7 linked regions of the Homo sapiens genome follow. The protein of the gene in region 1 purifies or fractionates together with the protein of each later gene. This does not show direct contact. Each region holds a gene or a part of one and is shown in the gene's direction. Other genes may lie near its edges.

Evidence for each region.
Region 2: the proteins of AP1S2 (region 1) and STX8 purify together in Homo sapiens (affinity purification with mass spectrometry; 2 studies listed by BioGRID and IntAct, with this or other methods). This does not show direct contact.
Region 3: the proteins of AP1S2 (region 1) and NUDT3 purify together in Homo sapiens (affinity purification with mass spectrometry; one large-scale study listed by BioGRID and IntAct). This does not show direct contact.
Region 4: the proteins of AP1S2 (region 1) and MYRF fractionate together in Homo sapiens (co-fractionation; one large-scale study listed by BioGRID). This does not show direct contact.
Region 5: the proteins of AP1S2 (region 1) and NBEAL1 purify together in Homo sapiens (affinity purification with mass spectrometry; one large-scale study listed by BioGRID and IntAct). This does not show direct contact.
Region 6: the proteins of AP1S2 (region 1) and SEC13 purify together in Homo sapiens (affinity purification with mass spectrometry; one large-scale study listed by BioGRID and IntAct). This does not show direct contact.
Region 7: the proteins of AP1S2 (region 1) and CCM2 purify together in Homo sapiens (affinity purification with mass spectrometry; 2 studies listed by BioGRID and IntAct, with this or other methods). This does not show direct contact.

The regions. Positions count from the first base shown.
Region 1 is NC_000023.11:15,825,306-15,828,128, reverse strand, and holds the end of AP1S2 (AP-1 complex subunit sigma-2), read left to right. Parts: intron 1-756; coding exon 757-804; 3' UTR 805-2,323; downstream 2,324-2,823. UniProt on the Homo sapiens protein: Subunit of clathrin-associated adaptor protein complex 1 that plays a role in protein sorting in the late-Golgi/trans-Golgi network (TGN) and/or endosomes.
Region 2 is NC_000017.11:9,506,302-9,509,870, reverse strand, and holds part of STX8 (syntaxin-8), read left to right. Parts: intron 1-3,569. UniProt on the Homo sapiens protein: Vesicle trafficking protein that functions in the early secretory pathway, possibly by mediating retrograde transport from cis-Golgi membranes to the ER.
Region 3 is NC_000006.12:34,284,670-34,288,169, reverse strand, and holds part of NUDT3 (diphosphoinositol polyphosphate phosphohydrolase 1), read left to right. Parts: 3' UTR 1-3,500. UniProt on the Homo sapiens protein: Cleaves a beta-phosphate from the diphosphate groups in PP-InsP5 (diphosphoinositol pentakisphosphate) and [PP]2-InsP4 (bisdiphosphoinositol tetrakisphosphate), suggesting that it may play a role in signal transduction.
Region 4 is NC_000011.10:61,755,636-61,759,204, forward strand, and holds part of MYRF (myelin regulatory factor isoform 2 precursor), read left to right. Parts: exon of another isoform or gene 1-61; intron 62-1,447; exon of another isoform or gene 1,448-1,728; intron 1,729-1,853; exon of another isoform or gene 1,854-2,029; intron 2,030-3,569.
Region 5 is NC_000002.12:203,223,245-203,225,723, forward strand, and holds the end of NBEAL1 (neurobeachin-like protein 1), read left to right. Parts: 3' UTR 1-1,950; downstream 1,951-2,479.
Region 6 is NC_000003.12:10,314,591-10,318,159, reverse strand, and holds part of SEC13 (protein SEC13 homolog), read left to right. Parts: intron 1-65; coding exon 66-110; intron 111-2,723; coding exon 2,724-2,839; intron 2,840-3,569. UniProt on the Homo sapiens protein: Functions as a component of the nuclear pore complex (NPC) and the COPII coat. At the endoplasmic reticulum, SEC13 is involved in the biogenesis of COPII-coated vesicles.
Region 7 is NC_000007.14:45,069,640-45,073,208, forward strand, and holds part of CCM2 (cerebral cavernous malformations 2 protein), read left to right. Parts: intron 1-186; coding exon 187-322; intron 323-749; coding exon of another isoform or gene 750-898; exon of another isoform or gene 899-2,110; coding exon of another isoform or gene 2,111-2,233; intron 2,234-3,086; coding exon 3,087-3,144; intron 3,145-3,569. UniProt on the Homo sapiens protein: Component of the CCM signaling pathway which is a crucial regulator of heart and vessel formation and integrity. May act through the stabilization of endothelial cell junctions. May function as a scaffold protein for MAP2K3-MAP3K3 signaling.

The DNA.
Region 1 (2,823 bases):
TTTTAATTACAAAATTCGTTGCTAGTAATACCTGAAAGTTGGCCTCCTTGGTCCTTTATTTTGTGATTTGCAAAATCAGCCACTTTGGAAAATTATTAAATAATTTTTTCCTGGATATGCTTACTTTGTTTTGACCTCCTTTGACACTTAAAAACCAGTGCTGGTTGCTACATAGAATAAAAATGCCTTTGGCCCATGGCATTCTTTGCATATGTGGCCTCTAGTGATGCCATTGGTTGCACTGGGGAGGTCTGGGAAGATAGCTGTTTCTGAAGACTTGCCGCTGTGGACACAGTTAACTAAAAACTCCAAGAGGAAGACATTTCTATAAATGCATGTGACAAAAAGCATGGAACACAACAGTAGGCGAAGAACTGTGGGAACTCGGAGGGAAGAGGTTTTGAATTTTACCACTAAGATAACTTATCTTTCATATATATAATTGAGTAGCAGTGATTTCATAAATTGCCAGCAGGTTTGCACTGGGCTTGACTGCTTTTTGCATGACAGCAACGGCATCTAGCACATTGGTAGGTAATTAGCAGGTACTTAATGAATGCTGAAAACGTCCTTTTGTGGTCTCCAATTTTGAGGGCACAAAACCCTAAATAACCAATGGCTGTCAACTAGAATGCTACTGTGACACGAAATTGCTTTCTTGATTCTCTAAAACAAGCATGTTCTTCCATGTCAATGTTTCACATTCTCAAGACTCCCTGGATCTGCTTACCAGAGTCTCACATTTTCCCTCCACAGGAAGCTGAAACCCCACGTAGTGTTCTTGAAGAAATTGGACTGACATAACTCTCCTCCCTTGTTGATGACTTCTTGTGGCATTTCACACACTGTAGATGGTCACTCCCTTCATGTCCATGTTAGCTCATGGTGTAAGATGATGTCTTGTCAGTATTACTGTTTTGCTAAGCCGCTTCATTCATGCCTACACAATTTTTTTTTAAAAGGGAACTTTAGTTAATTAAGTGATAAGGGACTTAAATATGAATTAGAATGGTGCAGAAAGAGATACCTTTTCTGGATATTTTAAAGTTTAAAGGTCAGTTTCTCTTAATCTGATTATGTGCACATATGAAAATGGCACATCATATACATGTAAAATCAGGCAGTATACATTTATTAATTACTGTATTTGACAAAGGAAACTCTTAAATTATAATGTGAAACCTGGTTTTATGAAACCAAAGACTAGTGCAGCATTTCAGCATATGTAAAAAAAAAAAAAAAGGGAATTGACATGTCACATATCAAATGAATGGAAACTTTGTTGAAACTTTAAAAAGCAAATTTACTCCAAAGACTTGTATTGGAAATTACATACCTTTTTTTTTTTTTTTTAAAGGACTACAGATTATTTTTAATGACTAAATTGGAGTGATACTTCTTACACTAAAAATTATTTCTTAGGCATTCTGAATCTGGGATGAGAAACAGGATTGTTTCACAATAGTAAGCACATAATTTTTAAGGCCAAGGCACATTTGACTCCTGAGATGAATTTTTTGTGGTCATAATCAAATACTTAGTTGTTTTTGATGCCCCAAAATAAAGTGAGAATGGTAATTTGCCAGGAATTCTTCATAACAGTATCTTACAAAAAACGTGTTGCTCTCTTCACAGTATTATGTGTAAAGTCATTGTTTAAAGCACGAATGTTCCCTCTGGGGTACTTGTTAAAGCTAAATTTATTTTGCTTCCCTCCACTTAGAAGTGCTGCACACTTTACAGCAGCTTCCTTTCTTTCCATGGCACTGCCTAGTTAACAGAAGTCTTATAAAAATTTAAAAAGACACATTTCTTACAAAAAAGAGTTGAATGAGGTAAAATGGCATTAGATGGCTCTATATTTTTTAAAGCTATGTAATTGTTCAGCGTCACTTTTCTAAGTACTTATACATATCTAAACATGTCTTCATGGTTTATATTTTCACTTATATATGCTGGGCTGGATTAAGCTTTGTTGTGATTGTGACCAACATTCAGGCCACGTGAGCACTGTCTTATCACATCGCCAATTAGTTGTAATAAACGTTCAACGTACAAACACTGGAGTGTGTTTTTATCTCTTTCCAAAAGTTTGTCAAACTATGCAGAGCTGCTGAAGGAAGAATTTCTCATTTTTTTTTCAGTAAAATGTTGAAAATTCCCCTCCATTTGAATATGGTGGTTGTTATAAGCACACACAAGATACATGGTGGAAGATCTAAGGAGTCTTCATGTACTTCATTAAAAAATAACATGGATTCCATACTGAGAGCCTATCTACACATTTATTTTCAATCAATAAATGCTGCTTTTAAAACCTTGATGCAGTTGACTTTTCTACTCTTTCTGAATGAACAACTTAGACTGTTACTCAAAAGGTATTTCAAATCAACTGGATTCCTCTTACCCCCTTGTGAACTGAAGGTGCTAGCACATGCAACAGAAAGGGACTAATACTTGCAGACTGTACTACCTAACCTATGCAACAAATCAAATCTATGGTAATCATGATAGTTAAGGGACCTCCTATTACTACAGATAGGAAATGTTACATTCTAAAACTGGGCTATTTAAGAAGGAGGCAGGAACTACCATCAAATTAAGTTGCTAGTCTACTGGAAAAAAAGACGTTTATAGGTTTAAAAAGCCTCCAACATGCAGCTAGCTATTCACTGAAAACAGGCCTGTGGGTTTCTGCTAGCAATGTATAGTTGGAATTTTTGAAACATAAATAGTAATCAGGCAATATATATTAAAAAAAACTAATAAATTTAAGTTCAAGATGGACATTTATCAGGATAATGAACCAGTCAGTGGTTTAAA
Region 2 (3,569 bases), on another chromosome or scaffold:
ATAGTTGAGTCTAGTCTTGTTTTTTTTTTTTTAATCTAGTTATCCAGTCTATGTCTTTTAATGAGATATTTAATTCACTTACATTCAAGGTTATTATTAATAGGTGAGGACTTATCTTGTCATTTTATTGTTTTCTGGCTGTTTTCTATATCCTTTGTTCCTTACTTCCTCTTACTGTTTATTTTTGTGGTTGGGTAGTGTTCTGAAGTGATAAGGCTTGATTTCTTTCTCTTTTTCCTTTGTATATTGGCTCTACCAGTGAGTTTTATAGTGTCACATGTTTTTATAATGGCTGTTATGATCTTTTCACTTCCAGATGTAATACTCCCTTGAGCACTTCTTGTAAGACTGGTCTAGTGGTGATGGATTACCTTCGTTTTTGCTTGTCTGTGAAAGATTTTATTTCTCTTTCATTTCTGGAGGATATCTTTGCTGCATGTAATATTCTTGGTTGGCAGATTTTTTTTTTCTTTTAGTACTTTGAACATAAAATCCTATTCTCTCTTGGTTGGTAAGATTTCTGCTGAGAAATCTGCTATTAGTCTAATGGGAACTCCCTCATAGGTGATTTGATGCTTTTCTCTTGCTGGTTTCTTTTTGTCATTGTTGTTTGTTTGTTTTTGAGATGGAGTCTTGCTCTGTTGCCCAGGCTGGAGTGCAGTAGCGTGGTCTCAGCTCACTGCAACCTCCGCCTCCCAGGTTCAAGTGATTCTCCTGCCTCTGCCTCCTGAGTAGCTGGGATTACAGGCACCTGCCACCATGCCCAGCTAATTTTTTTGTATTTTTAGTAGAGACAGAGTTTCACCATGTTGGCCAGGCTGGTCTTGAACTCCTGACATCGTGATCTGCCAGCCTCGGCCTCCCAAAGTACTGGGATAACAGGCATGAGCCACCACATCCAGTCCTTCTCTTGCTGTTTTTAGAATTCTTTGTCTTTGACTTTTGATAATTTGACTCTAATGTGCCTAAGAGGGGTCCTGTTTGAATGGAATCTATTTGGGATTCTTTTAGCTTCCTGGATCTGGAAGCTCCCAAGACTTGGGAAGTTTTCAGCTACTATTTCATTCAATGTTTTCTGTACATTTGCCCTTCTTTTCTCTTTCTGGAACACCTACAGTGTGAATATTTGTTCACTTAATAGTGTCCCATGAATTCTGTAGGCTTTCTTCATTCCATTTTACTTTTTCTTCCCCCCATCTTTCTGTGTTATTTCACAAGATCTGTCTTCAAGTTCAAAAATTCAGCCACGCATGGTGGCTCACACCTGTAATCCTGGCACTTTGGGAGGCCAAGGCGGGCAGATCACTTGAGATTAGGAGTTCGATACCAACCTGGCTAACATGGTGAAACCCCATCTCTACCAAAAAATACAAAAATTAGCTGGATGTGATGGCATGCCCCTGTAGTCCCAGCTACTCAGGAGGACTGAGGAGGGAGAATCACTTGAGCCCAGGAGGTGGAGGTTGCAGTGAGCTGAGATAATGCCACTGCACTCCAGCCTGGGTGACAGAGTAAGAACCTGTCTCCAAAAAAATAAATAAATAAAATTCTGCTTGGTCTAGTCTTTTGGTAAAGCTCTAGCTTGTACTTATTTACTTATTCATTGAATTCTTCCACTCCAGGATACCTGTTTTGTTCTTTTTTATGGTATTTATCTTCTTGTTGAATTTCTTGTTCAAGTCATGAATTGTTTTCCTGATTTCATCAAATTGTCTAGCTCTATTATCTTGTATCTCACTGTAAGATTACTATTTTGAATTCTTTTTCTGTCATTTTGTATATTTCTCTATCATTGGGGTCTATTACACAGGAATTATTGTATTCCTTTGGAGGTGTCATGTTTCCTTGCTTTTTCATGTTCGATGTATCCCTATGTTGATGTCTATGCATCTGGTGGAATAATTGCCTCTTCCAATTTTATGTGGTAGGTTTTGCAGGGAAAGAAATATTTGTATGAATGGATCTTGGGGTGTTGGTTCAGTGGGATGCATTGGCTTTGGTTCCAGGTGGGCATAGTAGTGTAGTTTTTGTGTAGTTTCTTTAACTGTAATCCATGCCAGTGACATTTGTGAGTGTCTCAGTGGCCTCAGCTGAGAGGCTTTGTGGTGGTGGTGGCATGACTTTGCCAGGGATGTGTTCACCGGGCTATTTGTCAGGTCAGCGATGCATGCGTTCACATGGTGGGTTGTCCAACTTGGGGTCTCACTTGCTGGGGTTGGGGTTGGTGCCCTTACTCTGGCTGAGGGCACAGTTGCTTGGTTGCTTGGCCAGTCTGGGAGTATGCCTGCCAGAGGTGGCCTGTTGGGCTGTTTCTCAGGTTTGGGACATGGGCACACTGCTGCTCAGCTCTCCTGTGGGGAATGCCTGCTGGGGACAGCCTACAGGGCTATTTCTCAGGCATGAGAGGTGGGCATAAGTCTGCTTGATGGCCCCGGGGGCATGTCTGCCAGGAGTGGCCTGAGGAGTTGCTTCTCAGACCCGGGATATGAACACAAGGCTGCTCGGCTGGCCTAGGGGAGTTGCCGCTAGGGGTGACCCATGGGCTGTTTTTCAGGCCTGAGATATGGACACATGGCTACTTGGCTGGCCTGGGGGTATGTCTGCCAGGGGCAGCCTGCAGGGTTGTTTCTCAGGCCCTGATTGAGGTGTGGGGCCTTTGGGCAGGCCGGGGGCATGTCTGTAGGGGGCTGCACTGCCCGACTGTTTCATAGATCCGGGATGCAGGAGCGTAGTCACTCTGCTAGCCTGTCAGTTGCTCAGGGCCTTCTGCTTGCAGGAGGGTATGCAGCAGTTTGGTTGGCTCAAGAGTGGGTTTGCCCTGGGTGGGACTGTTTCTGTGGCTGAAAGTGCAGAGGGTGGTTTCCCTTCATTGCAGGACCAGAGTCACAGCCATTCCCGAGCCCTGGGTTGTGGAGTTCAGCCACCTGTGTAGCTTTGGTGGCATGAAAATGGAGTCCCAGTGCTGGAAAGGTGCAGTGGCTACTGGCCCCAAGAGGAAGGCACACTCCAGAGGGAGCTGTGGTCTAAAGATGGCGCCATGCTGTAGTAACTTGGCTCATGGAGTGGGTGGGGAGTGGGGAATGCTCCTAATCTGGGGCAGTGCAACTGTACGAATTCCCAGCAGCTCTCCAAACTGGGCTCAGAACTTGCAAGGACTGGGGGATCCTCCTGTAATAAGGACTGTAGGTGTTTGCAGTGGCAGTGGGGGCAGGTGGGAATCTCCCGCTTACCTTTTCCTCACAGGGAGAAGGCCTTCATATGTCCAGGCCTCCTCAGTCCTGGTGGAAGAGATGGGGCCACAGAGGCTGGGGGCCTTCATGCTGCCCTCCTAGACTTTCAGTCACCACAGGGGCCTCTCCACTTCCCCACTGCAGTTCAGCACTTTCCCACACTGAAGTCAAATCTTAGCTGTTTATTCATTGCCTTAGTCCTTTCCTAAGAAAGGTGGGTGGGGGGGGGGGGGAGCGGGTGAGCACCAGCTGACTCTAATCAGTCATCTTGCTGATGTCCCACCCATCATTTATTCTATGATTTTTCATGAATCTGTTGAGAGCTCTAAAGATGAGTCT
Region 3 (3,500 bases), on another chromosome or scaffold:
CTAGAATTGAGAGCCTCACAATTAACATACCTTTTTGTTTTCGATGCTAGTGGCTGGGCAGGTTGCCCTGTCCTTTCTCTATTTCCCAGTCATTGACTGTAGATATGGGAAGAGTTTAGCTACCTTCATAGTGCTCCCAGGACTCATGGCCTTTCCTTCTTTAAGCTGTATTTCCCTGCCCAGAAAGAAACAGGAAGAAACCTTTTTTTATTTTTTTATTTTTTTTTAACCAAGCAAGGAGCAAATGGCCTCAGCCCAGATCTGTAAAAACAATGATAGAAATTGAATTCTGCCCCACATGTTGACAGTAGAGTTGGAACTGGATTCTTGGGATTACTTATCTAAAAAACTGGAGCATCAGGTCCATTTCTGTTCTGCTGGTTTGGAATCTTTTCCGTAATGCTATTTATTGCCAACAATGGCCTCTCTTTGTGTCCATATATGCCTTACACCGTGCTGACCTGGGTATCATCCATGTGCTCTGAAGCATCCAACTTTACTTTGCAGGTGCATCAATGTAGTCCTGTCCCTGAACTGAGTAACCGTGTTCCTGAAAAGTACACTAGGGAAATTCACCTGCTTGCTTGTCTTTGTATTGGCATGGCACTTGTGATTGCACCATGGAGCATGCTCAGAGCTATTAAATTGGTCTCCCATCTCCCACCAGGATATGAAAGGTCCATATGGGAGGCCACGTAATCACTTATTACAGTGGTTACATAATACACTGGCTCACTGCAGACTCTCTTGTTTTTTGATACAGTTTCGTGCTGGCTTCATTTGCCAATTGTGTTGTTTAGTTCGGAAGTAAGAGGGTCTTGAGATTGAGGGGTAGGGAGGGCTACACTGACTGATCCGTGGCTTAAGACAGGAGATTATCTCTGTACTCCAGTGGCATCTCCTTAGCCAAGATGTGAAATTAAAATCATAGTTCGCCTCATTTAAAAATTCTAATAAAGCACTCAAACTTTGAAAAGCTTTTACTTTTCCCTCCTACTAAAAGAAATGTATGTACCTCATAGCCCTGTGTCATTTAGTGTTCAGCACTTTTGGGAACATCAGTTGGTGAACTTTAAATTTTGCTGTCTACTCACTGGGCACGGTGGCTCACACCTGTAATCCCAGCACTTTGGGAGGCTGAGGCAGGTGGATCACCTGAGGTCAGGAGTTTGAGACCAGCCTGACCAACATGGTGAAACCCCGTCTCTACTAAAAATGCAGAAATTAGGTGGGCGCCTGTAATCCCAGCTACTTGGGAGGCTGAGGCGAGATAATCGCTTGAACCTGGGAGGCAGAGGTTGCAGTGAGCCGAGATTGCACCACTGTCGTCCAGCCTGGGTGATAAGAGTGAAACTCCATCTCAAAAAAAAAAAAAAAAAATTTTTTTTTTTTTTTTTGCTATATACTCTTAGTTTACATCCTCTCCCCCAATCTTCACACACAGAGCCAAAGAGCAGTTATATTCTTGGGATACCATGATACCTCTGGGAAAGGAATTATATTCCCAAGGAGAGGTCCCATTGGATAAGAACAATACCATGGGACTTGAGTCTGAATGCCAACTTACTATTCACACATCCTTCTTAAAAACGAACACACTGTTTCTTTTCCTGACCTAGAGCATTCTAAAGTTCTGTTCAAATAAATAAAGGGCAAAATAAAGTAGATTTAACCAAGTGCCAGGTGGAATTCAAAAAACACATTCTTCCAGATAAATTCTACCTTTATGGTATGGATTTGAAAGTACTTTGCAGGAAAACAGTCAGTACTCTTTAAAAAGGGACTGCAGGGCTGGGTGTAGTGGCTCACACCTGTAATCCCAGCACTTTGGGAGGCCAAGGCAGGTGGGTCACTTGAGGCCAGGAGTTTGAGACCAGCCTGACCAACATGGCAAAACCCCATCTCTACTAAAATACAAAAATTAGCTGGGCATGATGGTGCACTCCTGTAATCCCAGCTACTTGGTAGGCTGAAGCATGAGAATTGCTTAAACCTGGGAGGCAGAGGTTGCAGTAAGCCAAGATCATGCCACTGCACTCCAGCCTGGGCAACAGAGTAAGACTCTGTCTTAATAAATAAATAAGAAAATAAAACGGAACTGCAGTGCTAACAGTAATTTATACATTTTTAAATGTTCTGAGTATGTTTTGACTGGGCTAGTGTAACAATATACTACCCTGAAAGTGCAGTTTTGATTGTTGTTGGTGTCTTTGGGTCAGGAAAGTGAACTGTGCCAAGAAGTATTTTTCAGTGACATGAATGGATTCCTGTTAATGCAATTGACTGAGAGATTGTGCTTACGCTTTCTTAACTGACAAAAAGAGGCTTTGTCCAACATCAGAATTGTTGAAACTGGTGCTGTTTTCTGTTGCACTGGGATTCTGATGATCTGGGATTTTCCCTCCTTGGCACAGTAAACACCATGACTGTCTTTATTGAGAATGTCGTCACAGTCCTTTAGTGATAGATTAGTTAGACCCATGGTTGCAATACCTTTATCTCCCCAAAGAAAATAATCAAAAGAAAGCACAAAAGCTACCCTGTTTGCAGAATATTTCACTGACATTGATTTGTCATTAATTCTACCAGAGCTGACCTCATTCAGGCTTGATAGAAACAGGTTCCTATGTTTAGGGCAGATCCCTAGCCTCTCGCTCACAGTGAGTCTGCATGTCCTAGATTCTGGTTATTGCTGGAGCATCCATTAAAGTCTACCAAACTCAGGACAGAAGAAGATAGCAGTGGATTTGTAAAAATTTTTAGTTTATAAATTACAGTCATTGGGGAAACACTAGTAAGGTCATGTGATCTTTTGGACCAGGATTTTCTCTCTGTCTTCTCTCTGGGTGTGTGTGTGTGTATGTACAGAAGGGCTACCAGGAAGTGTCAACCATGTTAGATTTTCTGTAGTCTTCCAGAAACAGTGCAGCCCATACAACAGGAATCTTAATTTTCCTCACAGCAAATATAACAGGATGGAACAGTTAGTGTTTTGTTTTCACAAGTGTCCACCACTCCATCTGCCCTGCATGGAGAGGGCTCTCTCACTGCTAGATCTAGGCTGAGCCATCTGGAAGGATCAAAGGGTGTGGGAGTATCACCCCCTCTCAGGCTGCAGAAGGTCTCGAGGGTGGCGTCACAGCAGGATTTCCGCCTTCTGCATTGCACTGCACAGCCCCATGGAACATGAGGCACTTGAGGCCTTGCTTCTTGGAGCCTCTGGGGAGCAGAGTAGGTCACTGCCCTCTGGGAGTGTTTTGCAGTAGTTTTGTAAATGTGTTGCTACATAGTCAAGTTCCTTTGTGGCAAAGAAATATTTTGTTTTGATATTAGGAGCCAGCCCATGTAATGCCTCTCAGGCTTGCTTGCTTAGAAGAAAAAAGTCACCCTTTGTGGTTTTTAAGAAAAAAATTCTGTGCAGATCTGTTCCTCCTCCTGCTCCTTCCCTTTTCTCTACATACAGTGCTCATTGGAGGCTCCTGCTAAACCTTCTTAACCAG
Region 4 (3,569 bases), on another chromosome or scaffold:
TGCAAGACAGGAGGGGGTGGCAGAGAAGAACCTCAGCTCTGAAGAAGCTCACTGCCCAGCCCTGGGAAGGAGAGACATGTTAGAGTATGAATGGCCGAGCCTGGAAGGGGTGCCTGCTGGCCCTAGATTCTAGGGGCACATGAGGCTCGAGTGAGCAACCAGTGTCCCCCAGAAAGCAGGTGGGTGTGCAGGGAGCCTTGGAGGATGGAGGGAAGTCGCCTTCCAGCAGGTGCTGGAAAGACCACTTGGAGTTTAGTGGGCCTCTGCCCGGCCTCTGGAGCCCCACCAGGGCTGGAGGAGGGAGGCCTGGGATTTCGCCCCTTCTGAAGCTGATGGGTGGCTGGACTGGTGACTTCCTTCTCTGGCCTCATTCCCCTCCCAGGGTAAGTAAGTGGGTTGGACCAGAGCAGGGGCTTCCAATGTGATTTTTTAACCATCAAACAAACTCATAGTCTCCTGATAGGACAGATACAGTGGATAATGGGGGCTGGGCTCCTCACAGCCCCTGAAGCACCAGGATACTGGTTTGAAAGCCACCCTTCCCGGCTGTGGGATGGGTAAGGGGAGGGGAATGGCGCTGGCTGAGGCTCAGAGAGAAGGGAGTTGGCCAGAGTTAGCCAGAGTGGACACCTAGCCCCCAGCTCCCTACTCTGCCACCAGTACCTTGGGGTTGAGGGGGCTACCTGTCAGGGACCAACATCTCTGCCTCCAGAGGGCAGGAGGAGGTCCCAGGTAGAGACTACCTGATGATTTGGAAGAGAGGACTCCCACCTGGACAGGAATCCGGGGGCTGAGCTGGGCTTCGTGATGGGGGTGGCACTGTGGCCCGTGTCAGCCTGTCTCTGTCTGTCCCTGGTGCACCCAGGGAGTAAGTAGATGGGAGGGGTGGCCAGGCACAGGGTTTCCTGAGCCCAGGCAGGGGAGGAAATGGTAGTAGGGGGTCTGACTCATCCCCATGTCCCCAGCACCCAGTGCAGGGCAGGGGTGGGGGGTGGGCAGGAAGTGCTCTCCGGGTCAATGGTGACAACAATGGGTATGTGAACAGAGGCGGCGGGGGTGGGGGACGCACCCCAGAAAGCACCTCTCTGGAGGGCCTGGGGTCAGTGCAGGGGTGAGAAACAGGCAGTTACCAACCCTTTGGCCTCAGGGACTCTCCTGAGACTGGAAGGCTGGACAGAGTGCTCCTTGGGGTCTTAAGTAGAGCCAAGGAGGGCATTTGAGGGCAGAATGGCCTTTTCCCTGGGGGCCTGACTCCCCAATTACCAACTCCCAAGGGGTTACAGACTGGAGGGCCCTGGCAGCAGAGGCTGCTGGGTAACAGCCCAGCAGAGCTGCTCATTGGCTGCCACCCTTGGACTTTGCCCTCCCTGATAAGGAACTGGGAGCAGAAATTATTAACTGAATCATTAACTGGGTGGCCCCGCCCTACCCAGGCAGCCTGCCTTACCTTCCCACCTTCCTCTTCACGGACCTAGCACCTTCCTGGGCCTCAGTTTCTCTCATTGCCTTGGGTGCTGGAGTATGTGGGGCCTCCTCTCCTATCTCCAGGCCTTCAGCCCCGGCTGCCACGGGGTGTGGGTACCTCTTGGTTGGGTCTCGGGGTAGGATGATGTAATGGTTCTGTGCATTCGCCAGCGAGGGCAGCTGGGGTCTGTTCCTAGCTCTCCTGCTTACCCACAGTGCTTCTCTTGGCCGTATCAGGGCACCGCTGTGCCTCCGCTTTCTCATCTGTAAAACGGGAGTGCAGTTGTAATGGCAGGGCCTCCGTCCCAGGGTTTCTGGGGTGATTAGGTAAGATTGTGCCTGGCCTGGTGAACACTCCATTGGTCCATGGCAGGTGTTCTGCGCCCTACCTTGAAGATTACTGGTCCCCAGGGTAGGTCAGTGCCCCTAAGCTTAGGGGGCTTGTTGAGCATGTTCTGTGGTTCTGTGTGCAAGGCCTGAACCATGACAGCTCTGGCCCAGCGTGGCCTGGTCCTGGTCCCTGGCACATCCAGTGGGGCCCGCCCCACCTCCCCCTCTGAGATTTGGGTTCTGTTCTTGCTGCCAGCAAGGAGGAGGGGCTTGGCTGTATTGTGACTTCATCTGCTGCACCCAGGCTCTTTGCACGTTGTCTTCCTGGAGTCCTGGGGTGCAGTGGAAGCGTGGGTGACGGCCTCCCATTTCTGAGGGGGACTGTGAGGCAGGACAGGAAGGCGATGATGTGTCAGGCTCCCTCAAGGTGGCCACAACAGAGCTGGGACTGGAGCCTGGGTCCCAGCTCTGTGCCAGCCTGGGATGGGCAGGGAAGGGGCCTCTCCTCCTGACATGCTGAGGGGTGGCTCCAGCACGGGTGGCCACGCCAGGTGATGTCCGTGCAGCCTCCTTGACCTCTCTAGACCTCAGAGCCCTCACTCACATGGTCAAGGTTGGGTGATGTTAGCAGTTAGATCCCACGAGTGCCAAGGCCTGGAGTGAGGGGGGGAGGGGCAAAGCCCCTGGGTGGGGAGTACAGTTGGGTCCGGAGCCCCCTGCCGGCCTAGAGTATGGAGGGGGCTCCCGGACATTCTGTCCTCCCTGTGCCCCAGGTCGCATCAGTGAGGGAAGTTCTCCCTCCAGCTGACCGGGGTCCGTGCAGCCACCGGAGTGCACAACCACAGCCTCTGTCTCTCCTTTGTGGAGTTTGAGGATCCTATCTCCCTCCGGCCTCCCTCACTCCCCTCTCTTCTCCCTCTATGGCTGGGGCAAGGGGATCCCCATCCCCTGCCCTGCTAGCTTGGAGGAGGGAAGTTGTGCCTGTGACACTGAGTTCACTCAGTGGGGCCTGGCTCCAGCCGGAGCTGCTTAGGGAGGGTCTGACAGCAGGCGGGGAGGGGGCTTGGAGGGAAGAAGAGGAGGTGGGAGCTCTTCCTGGGTGGCCACTAACCTAACCCATGCATGTGACGCTGTGCCTGTGGGCCTGGGCCTGTCGTCGGGTCAGTGAGTGTTTGTGTACATGCGTGTCCTGGCATATACACCTGTGAAGTGTGCTGAGGTGTGAACATGCACAGGCATGCTCGTACCTCAGGGCTTTTGCACCGGCTGTCCCCGCCATCTGGAACCTTCTAGAATGCTAGGCATTTTGCTGCTCTCGTCATCTGACTCTGCTCCCTAGAATGTCAGCTCCATGTGGGCAAGGCTTTTGTCCCTTTTGCTCACTGCTGTAGCCCCAAAGCTGGGCACTATGCTTGCCTGGCACATAACAGGTGCTCAGTAAATAACTGCTGAATGAATGAAGGCACACGGATGAACGCTGGTGTGCGCATGTGTGTGGGTATATGTGTGGGGCATGCCACTGTGTGTCAGTACTGTGTATGTGTGAGTAGGGGGCAGGTGGTACGTGATCATGCGCATGTCAGTGGATACCTGACTGCAGGGTGTGCCCTTACATATATGTGTGTGTGTTGGCAGTGTGCCTGCGTGGGGCCACGCCGGTGTGTAGGCACAGATGGGCACAGGTGACCCTGGTGGAGACCTGTGTCCACCCCAAGCTGCAGGGTCTCTACCTGGCACCTGGTGGCCTGCCTGCCCTGGTCCCTGTGGGAGAGAGT
Region 5 (2,479 bases), on another chromosome or scaffold:
TGAAAATTCAGAAGGAAAAGAACAAATAGAAAGCTACTAATTCAATATTTGTTTTTCATGGTACGGTTTTCATGTTTCCTTGGAAACATATTTTGCAAATATAACAATAATAGTAATAACACAATTTTGTCATTTAAAAAATTACCCATTCATTTTTCAAACTTGACTGTTAGTGGAGGGGTATATGTGTGTCTGTGTTTCCACTTATGTAATGGCTGTCTCATTATTTAAATTAATTTATAATTATTTTTCAGTGTACAGAGTGATTAGCGGCTTGTAATGCTGTTACAATGTAGCATTGTAATGTAAGATGAAGAAAAATTAGGATTTAGGTGGGATTTTTAAAAATTTATCAATTCAGCTACTTTTTAAAAGAAGTCCTATTCCAATTGGACCTTTAAAATTTTTATTTTGGTAATATTTCAACTTAAGATGTATTAAAACTAGCAATTCTGTGGTAATCAGTGTACTAGTCAACATTAAAATGCTATTTTGGGTTGTCTTCTTTTGGTAACATATTCTGACACTAAGCAACATGTTTTACAATTTAGTGGGATGAACCTACAAATTCATAAATGCTTCTCTTTATTTTGAAGGAAAAAGATACTTGTCTGTATACGACATAATTGTTTTACTCTTCAGAATGTGAAAGTTATATTAATCACTAAACACTTTAAGAAGTGGTTCTGGTAGGATATCAGTAGTCAGACTTAATTGAAAAACTGTCAGCGTCTGTTTTGTATATAGGGATTAAAGAGGATAACTTTATTTTTTCCTTTGGAAAGAATAATTCTTTTGGAATTTTGGAATTTTGATTTTCTTAGATGACTTTTTAGCAATTTAATGATAATAATTTCTATTTTTCTTCCAAAACTATGGCATGTTATAGTAGATCTTACTATTAAAGATCTTTTATATTTTAAACTGTTTTTTTCCTATTCTGCTTTTTGCTGCTCTCAAAGACTGTGATTGATGAACATCACCAAACTTTTTTTGTGGCAAACTGCTTATTTTATAAGTAGCTTTATATAAGAAAACTTCTTAGAAAACTATGTGGCTGGTTGGTTCCATTTAGAAACTCTTAACAGGTATGGCTTTCATTCCTCCAGTTGTTTGCTTTTATAGACTTGGAGCAAAAAATATAGCAAAAAGTAATCATATCTGGCTAGATAGCCATTTCTCTCAGATTCATTGCTATAAAAATGAATCTACTGAGGCATAAAAATATGAAACATATTTAATTCATCTCTTTTGTCAGTTTTTCTGGGACTCCAATAGCATTTCAGTGTTATAGAGAGTGACAGTGACTTGAATGCATGTATATGCACATAGTCAATTCAGAGCGTAATAACTAAAAATTCAGAATGACTTGTTTTTTGAAAGTACTTGGAAATTGTGCTGCTACTTAAATATTGAAGGAATTCAGAAAGTTGTGTATTTATCTTAAAATGTTCCTTCTCACTTATTCTACTGGAATTGACCATGAAAAAGAAAATATTATGCCTTATTTATATCTAATTATTGACTGTGCAAACTGTGACTCAGTGGATATTTGTATGCCCCCCAAAAACATTTTAAAGCTGAGCAATTTTTAATAAAGATGTATAAATAATTTTGATTATTCTCATTGTAGTTAAGTTACTGTTAGTTTGGTGCAATACATTCTTTCCTTCCTCATCCTTTTAAAATTAAATATATAAGATGTATGTTTTGTTTTATTACATTAAGTGCTATTTTTAAAAAATTCATTGTGTGTATATGAGCTAATACTTGATTTGTTTCTGTATAGCATGATTAAAGATAATTGAAAATTTTGCACTTATTTTAGGCCCTTGGAAATTTGTATTCTAATACTTTTTAAGAATGTCCATTTATTTTGTACATAATAAATTAGCTTTGTATATGAAAATGGGTTTGAATCAAATAAAAAAAGTGATGTTACTTTCTTCAGTTGATTTGTAATTCTCAGTTCATAGAGTCTGATTAGAACTTATCCTTGGCTAAGTTATTTGGGTAGACAAGAGATTGAATACAGTATTTGTTAATTAGAAAATTGATCAATGTTTCTTTCTCATATGAGCAGAATTTCTTCTGTAGTCCTGTGTGCACAAGATACATGTCAATTGACTATTTTTTGTCATATGTAACAACAGATATTCTGCCTTTCACTTTAGAGCTACCTCAAAAACATTGTTACAGGCTAGGCACAGTGGCTCATGCCTGTAATCATAGCACTTTGGGAGACCAAGGCTGGAGAATAGCTTGAGCCCAGGAGTTCAAGACCAGTCTGGGCAATATAAAGAGACCCTGTCTCTAAAAAAATTTAAAAATTAGCCAGGCATTGTGGCATGCACCTGTAGTTCTAGCTTGAGCCCAGCAGGTGGAGGCTACACTGAGCCAAGATCACACCACTGCACTCCAACCTGGGTAACAGAGAAATACCCTGTCTCAAAACAAACATTGTTTTAGTTTTTCCCTT
Region 6 (3,569 bases), on another chromosome or scaffold:
AGAACTTGAGATGGTTGTATTCTAACTGCCATGAGTTAATTTACCAGTGATATCTTTGGTTCTAGGTGTCAGTAATTAACACTGTGGATACCTCCCATGAGGACATGATTGTAAGTATTAATATCACCCTCCCTGGAGGGGTGTGGACATGGGCATTTTTGTGGGAGGGAAGCAATTTGGGGTTTTCATTACCCCTTTCTGTTGATCATTCATGGATCCAGGGTGGCTTTGCAGTGGTTGCCTATCAGCCTGTAATCTCGGGGTATGGCAGGCTCCCTAGCAGTGCCCTCTGAGTTGTCAGGACTGTGGCAGTCTAATCACTCTCTGCTGGGAGGAACCTGGGAATAATTTGTAGTTCTAGGCTGTCAGTCTTCCAGCCAATACAATAACCTGCTCTCGGATGAAGGCTGAGTGGGTACGGAGGCTTGACAATAGTCTTCCCACCTGTCTTCCTCCTGCTGTCACTTCTTAGCCCCACTGGAAAGGGGGGTGAAAAGAAGAGAGTGTAGAAAGATGACTCAATACAAAGGCAGAGGGCAGCCACAGTGAAAGCCCCAGGCAGAGCCCAGTCAAACCACCAAGACAATAGGCCAGACAAGGCCCTTTGAACCAGAAGTCCACACTCAGGGCATTTCCTGAGAGGTAAACACAAGGCTCAGTATAAGAGGACAGGGCTGCAGGAGAAGGTCCAGAGGTTAAAGTCTACCGCAGGAAAAACACAGACTCTGCTTCATTCAGGGCCAAGCAGCCTTTGAGCAAGACCCAGGACAGCTGGCTGACAGTGTTTCATGTCAGGGTTCTTGCCCTCACAACCTGTCCACCAACAGTTGCTTTTGGGTTTCTGAGAGGTTGTCTGGTCCCAGAGTTGTATATGTTCTCTGGATTCAGTCATGAGTGGTCTAGCTGTAAGACCACACCTCCTTGGAGATAGCATGGAATCATGGGCAGGAAGACCCAGTCTGAGACTCCCTAGCCAATATCTTAACTTTTCTGAGCCAGCCTCAATTTACTTACGGGAAAAATAATGGATATGCTACCTACTCGTATGAGTTTGGTTTGAGAACTAGATGAGGCCAAGTAGTAATGACAAACATTTGCATGCTCACTGAGTGTCAGGCCCCATGCTAAGTACTTTTCTTTTTTTTTTTTTTTTTTTTTGAGATGGAGTTTCGCTCTTGTAGCCCAGGCTGGCATGCAGTGGCGTGATCTCAGCTCACCGCAACCTACGCCTCCCGGGTTCAAGTAATTCTCCTGCCCCAGACTCCCGAGTAGCTGGGATTACAGGCGTGCGCCACCACTCCCAGCTAATTTTGTATTTTTAGTAGAGGCAAGTTTTCTCCATGTTGGTCAGGCTAGTCTCGAACTCCCGACCTCAGGTGATCCGCCCGCCTCAGCTTCCCAAAGTGCTGGGATTACAGGCGTGAGTTTTCATTCAATATCTTGTTTAACCTTCATAACAACTGTTGAGACAGATGCTATCTTTAGCCTTATTTAAAGATAAGGGAACTAAGGCCCATAGGATGTTGGTAAATAATAAAGATAAGGAAACTGAAGCTCAAGGAGATGAAGTGTTTTCAAAGTTTGCACAGCAGGTAAACTAAGGAGATAGGATTTAGATCTGAAAGGTACTATGTCCTGCCTCCTTCCACTGAGAAGCATGAGAAGTGCTTCAGAAACACTCCTCTACTGCCTGCCCTCCAAGAAACCAAGGCCTGATACAGTGGAGGGAGTTCCCAAAGAAAAATCAGGATGTGTTCCTTGCGTAGGGAGGTGAGAATTCCCATCTGAGCCAGACAGAATGAGTGCCTTTGAATGGGCATAATTGCCCCTGGTGGCCATGGGAGTGCAGCTGATAGTCCTGAAACTCCCAGGGTGGGACAGCTGGGGAAAGGGACATCCATTGGAATAGGCAGGGCCAGCAAGCAGAAGGGACCAGGGTGTTCAGTGGTGCAGGAGGCATGGTGCCTCAGAGACCATCACCCTGCGGACAAGGATCTGCAGGTAGGGGCCAGGCCTAGTTCTGCATGCTCAGTCAGCATCAAGGAATTCGGTTCACAAGTGGTGAGAGCAGCGACACTTAAGGCATTGTGTTCCTTGGGTGGAAAGTCTGGGAAGCTCTGGGCACACTACTAGGGAAAAGGTCGAGCAGAAGCCCCAAAACAAAGGTCCACAAAGGATCCAGGGCCAGGGCTGGAAAGAGCCCAAATATCTGAATGGAACCCTGTGTGCAGGCCAGAGCTGCATCACAGAAGACCTGACTGGGGACTCCAGGCAGTCAGAGGCCCACTCCTTTGGCCTGCTCCCATGCATTAGCATCAGGTGCTAGGGCTGAGCTGAACCCAGGGGTATTCCCCTTTAGCCCACAGAGCCTAAGAACTGAATAGGGCCTGAGAGGATGGAGGAAGAAGAGGGCAGCTAGGCCAACTTTTTTTCTCCCATACCCACCCTGCGGAACAGGAATGGAAGAGCCCTTCCCTGAGGTATGTAAAGGGTCTGTGACACCAGCTGGGCATGGCTTGCTTTGTCCATTTCAGAGAGACACTGCCCATAGGTGAAGTGAGAATGTCCACATGCTAGCTTCCTGCCTGAGGGTGATGATACTTTGAGATCAGATTGATTTCAGGGAGATTCTGGTCCAAACTAGACTCTGTGTAGTGACAGCCCTCACCCCACCCACCCACCCACCCAGCCTGCAGGCTTCCCGAGCTGTCCTCCCTTTGCAGCACGACGCCCAGATGGACTACTATGGCACCCGCCTGGCAACCTGCTCATCAGACAGGTCCGTCAAAATCTTTGATGTGCGCAATGGAGGGCAGATCCTTATCGCCGACCTCAGGGGGTAAGTGCTGGCGAGCCCAGGGAAGGGCTCCAGGAATGGTGTGGGTTCTCAGGCCCTGCTTCAAGCGTGGGAGCAAAGCATGGGAGCCCAGATTCAGAGCAACCCCAAAGCACATTTAGCGGAGAGGACGCTGGGATCCCAGCCAGCCTGGCTGTCCTCAGCGGACGTCCCCAGGGATGATGCTGTTAAGGGCACAGGTGGATACAGGTGTGAATCTCAGCTCTGCCACTTTATGTGTACCCACCAGAAGACCTTGGGCAAGTGACTCAGTTTCTCTCTCAGAGCCTTCATCTGCTCATCCTCAAAATTGGGCCAATGCTACCTCCTATCCAGCTAGTGTATGCAAGGCCCTGACACAGGGCCCAGGACACAGTAAGTCTTTAGTGCAGGCAGCTACTGCTACTTTTAAAAGTGGTAAACAGTACCATTTCGTTCAAGTTTAGCCAGTATGACCTAAAGTGTCACAAAAGCATCACCGTAAGAATAATGTAAGAATGCTATCATTTTATAAATCCCATTGTTCTGCCTATATGCCCGTGGCACGTGTTCAGTGATTATTTACAAATGTTTGACCTGCCCTGCTCCCTACTGAGATTCTTGAGGAAGTCCTGGCTCATTTTTATGGCCACATCTCTACTGCTTTCCCTCAGCTCACTGCCTTTCACGTATTTGTGGGTTTGCCTGGGTGCCGTGGATCTCCAAGGGTTCTGTGAATAGAGTTCAGGGGTTG
Region 7 (3,569 bases), on another chromosome or scaffold:
GGGCAGTTGGCTGGGTCTCTCTTTTGACACCCCTTTGGGTCAGTGAAAGGCAGAGGGACACATTCTGGTATCCACTCTTCATTCATGTTTATTGAGCATCTGGGCTGCCCCAGGTATCCTGGAAGCCGCCTGGGAAGGCGCAGTCTCCAGCCAGACTGACCGAGCAGCTGCTGTCCCCCACTGCAGGTCGCTGCGGAGGAGCTTTGCTGTCTGCTAGGCCAGGTCTTCCAGGTTGTTTACACGGAGTCCACCATCGACTTTCTGGACAGAGCGATATTTGATGGGGCCTCTACCCCGACCCACCACCTGTCCCTGCACAGCGGTATGTTGAGTGAGAGTGGGCAGCGGGTGGGAGCAGGGACAGGAGGGGCTACTGCAGTGGCCCCCAGCTCCCCATGAGTTACTCCTGGAATAGCGCAGTTACTGCCGTGACATGGTGGCCTTTTGTTTCCAGACTTTGCTGTTCACATTAGCCCATAGGGTTTCATGAAGGCAGAAGTGTCACCTGTCCTTGAGAGAGTTGCACCAGGTCAGCGCTATGGCTTCCTGGAATAAATTTGGGGTCTGTGAACACTTTTTTGGAACCACTTGTGGCTAAAGTCACTTCACTTAACTCGGAACAAAGAGCTTGGAGAAGGCTCCTAGCACTGGGGCCTGTGATGGAATTGGGGAGGCTGAGAGTGGGTCTGGGGAGCCTCCTTTTCAGTATGCCCAGACTATGGCTGCTCTTAATGTGAAACTCCTTCCAGGACCATGGCCAGACCCATGGGAAGCTGCTCAGGCTGCCCTGGGAGGCCAGCTGGCAGTGGTGGAGCAGTGGCAGATGGGGAAGAATGGAAGGTACCCCAGAGCTGTCTCTTCCTGCATGGCCCACACAGCATTTTCAGGAGTCTGTTAGTCCATTGAAAACACTTCATCAGCAAGCTCACTTGAGTTAAGTCTTCAAAAACATCATCTGTTTTTCAGATGTATTACTTATTGAGGATTAATGGGTTATATAAATTGAGGTGCATAAAAAGCTGTTGGAGGCTGGGTGTGGTGGCTCATGCCTGTAATCCCAGCACTTTGGGAGGCTGAGGCGGGCGGATCACCTGAGGTCGGGAGTTCAAGACCAGCCTGACCAACATGGAGAAACCCTGTCTCTACTAAAAAATACCAAGAAAAAAAAAAAGGCTGTTGGAAACAGTGCGGCTTGTTGAGTACAATTTCTTCTTTTTACGGAGATAAGTCCCAGCCCTCTGCCCTTTCCCCAGTAACTCGCACATCTCAGTGAAGAGAGTAAATGGTGGAGAAGCCTGTGCTGGTGTGAGGGCTGCTCCTCAGTGCCTCCTTCTTCCCTTTCTTGCTGCTGGTGCCAGAGCCCTTTGTGGGCACTACACGCCTTGTGTTGGCCCAGCAGCTGCAGAGAGACAGCTGCTGAGCTCTCAGGCATCCTCTCTATCTCATTTAGTCCTCGGTGGCCCAGCGAGATAGGTGCAATCTTCATCCCCATTTTAGAGATGGGGAAGTGGAGGCTTAGAAGTCAACAGCTTATCCAGAGGAATGTACCATATGAGTAGCAGATGATTTATCGAGCTGTAATTAAACATTCAGTTTTAGTGCGACTGGTTTGGCCCTTGTGCTTTAAAATTCCCAAAGGGCCTTTTTTTCTTTAATAATTTTTTTTTTACTGAGAAGTACACAAGTCATACATGTACAGTTGAATGAATTTTCATAAAGTAAACACATCATGTAACACCACTACTGGGGGTTGCTGAAGTGGGCTTCTTCCCCTGCCAGCCTTTCCCAAGACCTCCCCGTGGGATCCACACACAGATGTGCACACGTTACGCACATGCATGCATTCTCTGCTTATTTCTGCCTTGGAGTTTTGCTTGCTGTGTTCTCTCTACTACAGCTATGCCAAAACATAGCAGCATAAACAGCAGAAATATATTCTCTTATAATTCTATACGTTAAGAGTCCATTGTGGGTCCCACTGGGCTAAAGTTGAGGTGTCCACAGGGCTGGTTCCTTCTGGAGGCTCCAGAGAAGAAGCCATTTCCTTGTCTTTCCAGCTCCTAAAGGCGGCTGCATGCCTTGGCTCATGGCCCTTCCTCTGTCTTCACAGCCAGCCACGTGACCTCTTCCACAGTCACATCTTCCTTTGACTGTCAGCTTCCTCTGCATTTCAGGACTCTTGCAATCACATTGAGCCCACCCAAATTCTCCAGGGTCATCTCCCTATTTCAAGGTCAGCTGATAAGCATCCTTTACTCCCCTTTGAAATTGGTAACATATTCACCAATTCCAGGGATTAGGATGTGGACGTCTTTGGGGGGTCATTATTCTGCCCTCCATACTTACCTTGTTCCTAGTGCCAGAAATGTCCCTTTTATCTCTCAGCCTCTCCCTCTGCTTCATTTAAAATCTTACCCTCTCTGCAACACTCACCTGCCTCGCTCACAAAGCTTTCACTCACTGTCTGTGCTGGTGTGAAATGTGCCTTCCTCAGGTTTGAAATAGCAAATTACAGTCTGTGTCACACGGACCTAATGTCATTTGTTGAATGTAGCTGCTCAGTGCCAGACCCTTTGCTGGTCTGAGGGTCTTGGGAATCCTGTGGCTTCACTGGGTTCAGATGGGGAGTCAGACTGCCCGGCTCTGACTGTGGTTTCTGCTGTGTGACCTGGGCCAAGTTGTGTAACTCTCTGACTTACTTCCTAATCTACAAGTGAAGACAGGGGTGATATATGCCTGGGTTAAAGGAGACAAAGCCCCAGTAACCCTGCCTGGCACATGAGTGATACCTCAAAGACAGCTTTTGCTGGCTCTGGCCATGGGTGAATGTGTACTTCAGCCCAGCGTGCAGCAGGATTTGCATTTGCCAGGATCCCCAGGAGGGGTGTATGTGGGCTCAAGTCTGGGAAGCCCTGCCCTGAGGCACACAGCACATTCCAGAGTGCGGGCAGCTTGATGAAGGACAGCAGGGTCCCTGAAGACCAGGGCTGCCGCTGTCTCCTGTAAATACAGCAGTGGGCTGGACTCAAAATGCCTCCCCACTATGTCCCTGAAAGTCATCTTAGTTTTCTGCATCTTCCTTACAGATGACTCTTCTACAAAAGTGGACATTAAGGAGACCTACGAGGTGGAAGCCAGCACTTTGTGAGTGCACATGCCACCAAGCCCTGCGGTGGGACACGCACCAAATGCGTTGTCTGGTGTTGTCCAGGCTGCAGCCAGTCAGCTCCCCCATCTCAGCTCACCCTCGCTAAGCCATCCCCAGACCCACTGTACCCAGCTTAGTGAATGGCTGAGGCCTGGCTCGCCGCCCTCTCCTCGTAGACTTCTAGAGCCCTTGCTGTCCCTCTTGTCTCTCCCTGCCTACCTTCCCATGGCCTCCCAAGAGTGAGCTTGTAATAGGCATGTTGGATGGAGCTGTTCCCCTGCCCGAGCCTGCCGAGGCGCTGGCCTTCCAGCCCATCTCTGCCACCACCTGGGGCTCTGTAGTAGTTCACCCACTCGCGCTCTCCATTCCTGCCACCTCCCCAACCCTGGCTCCTTCCCCTGCCCAACAATGCTGCCCACTG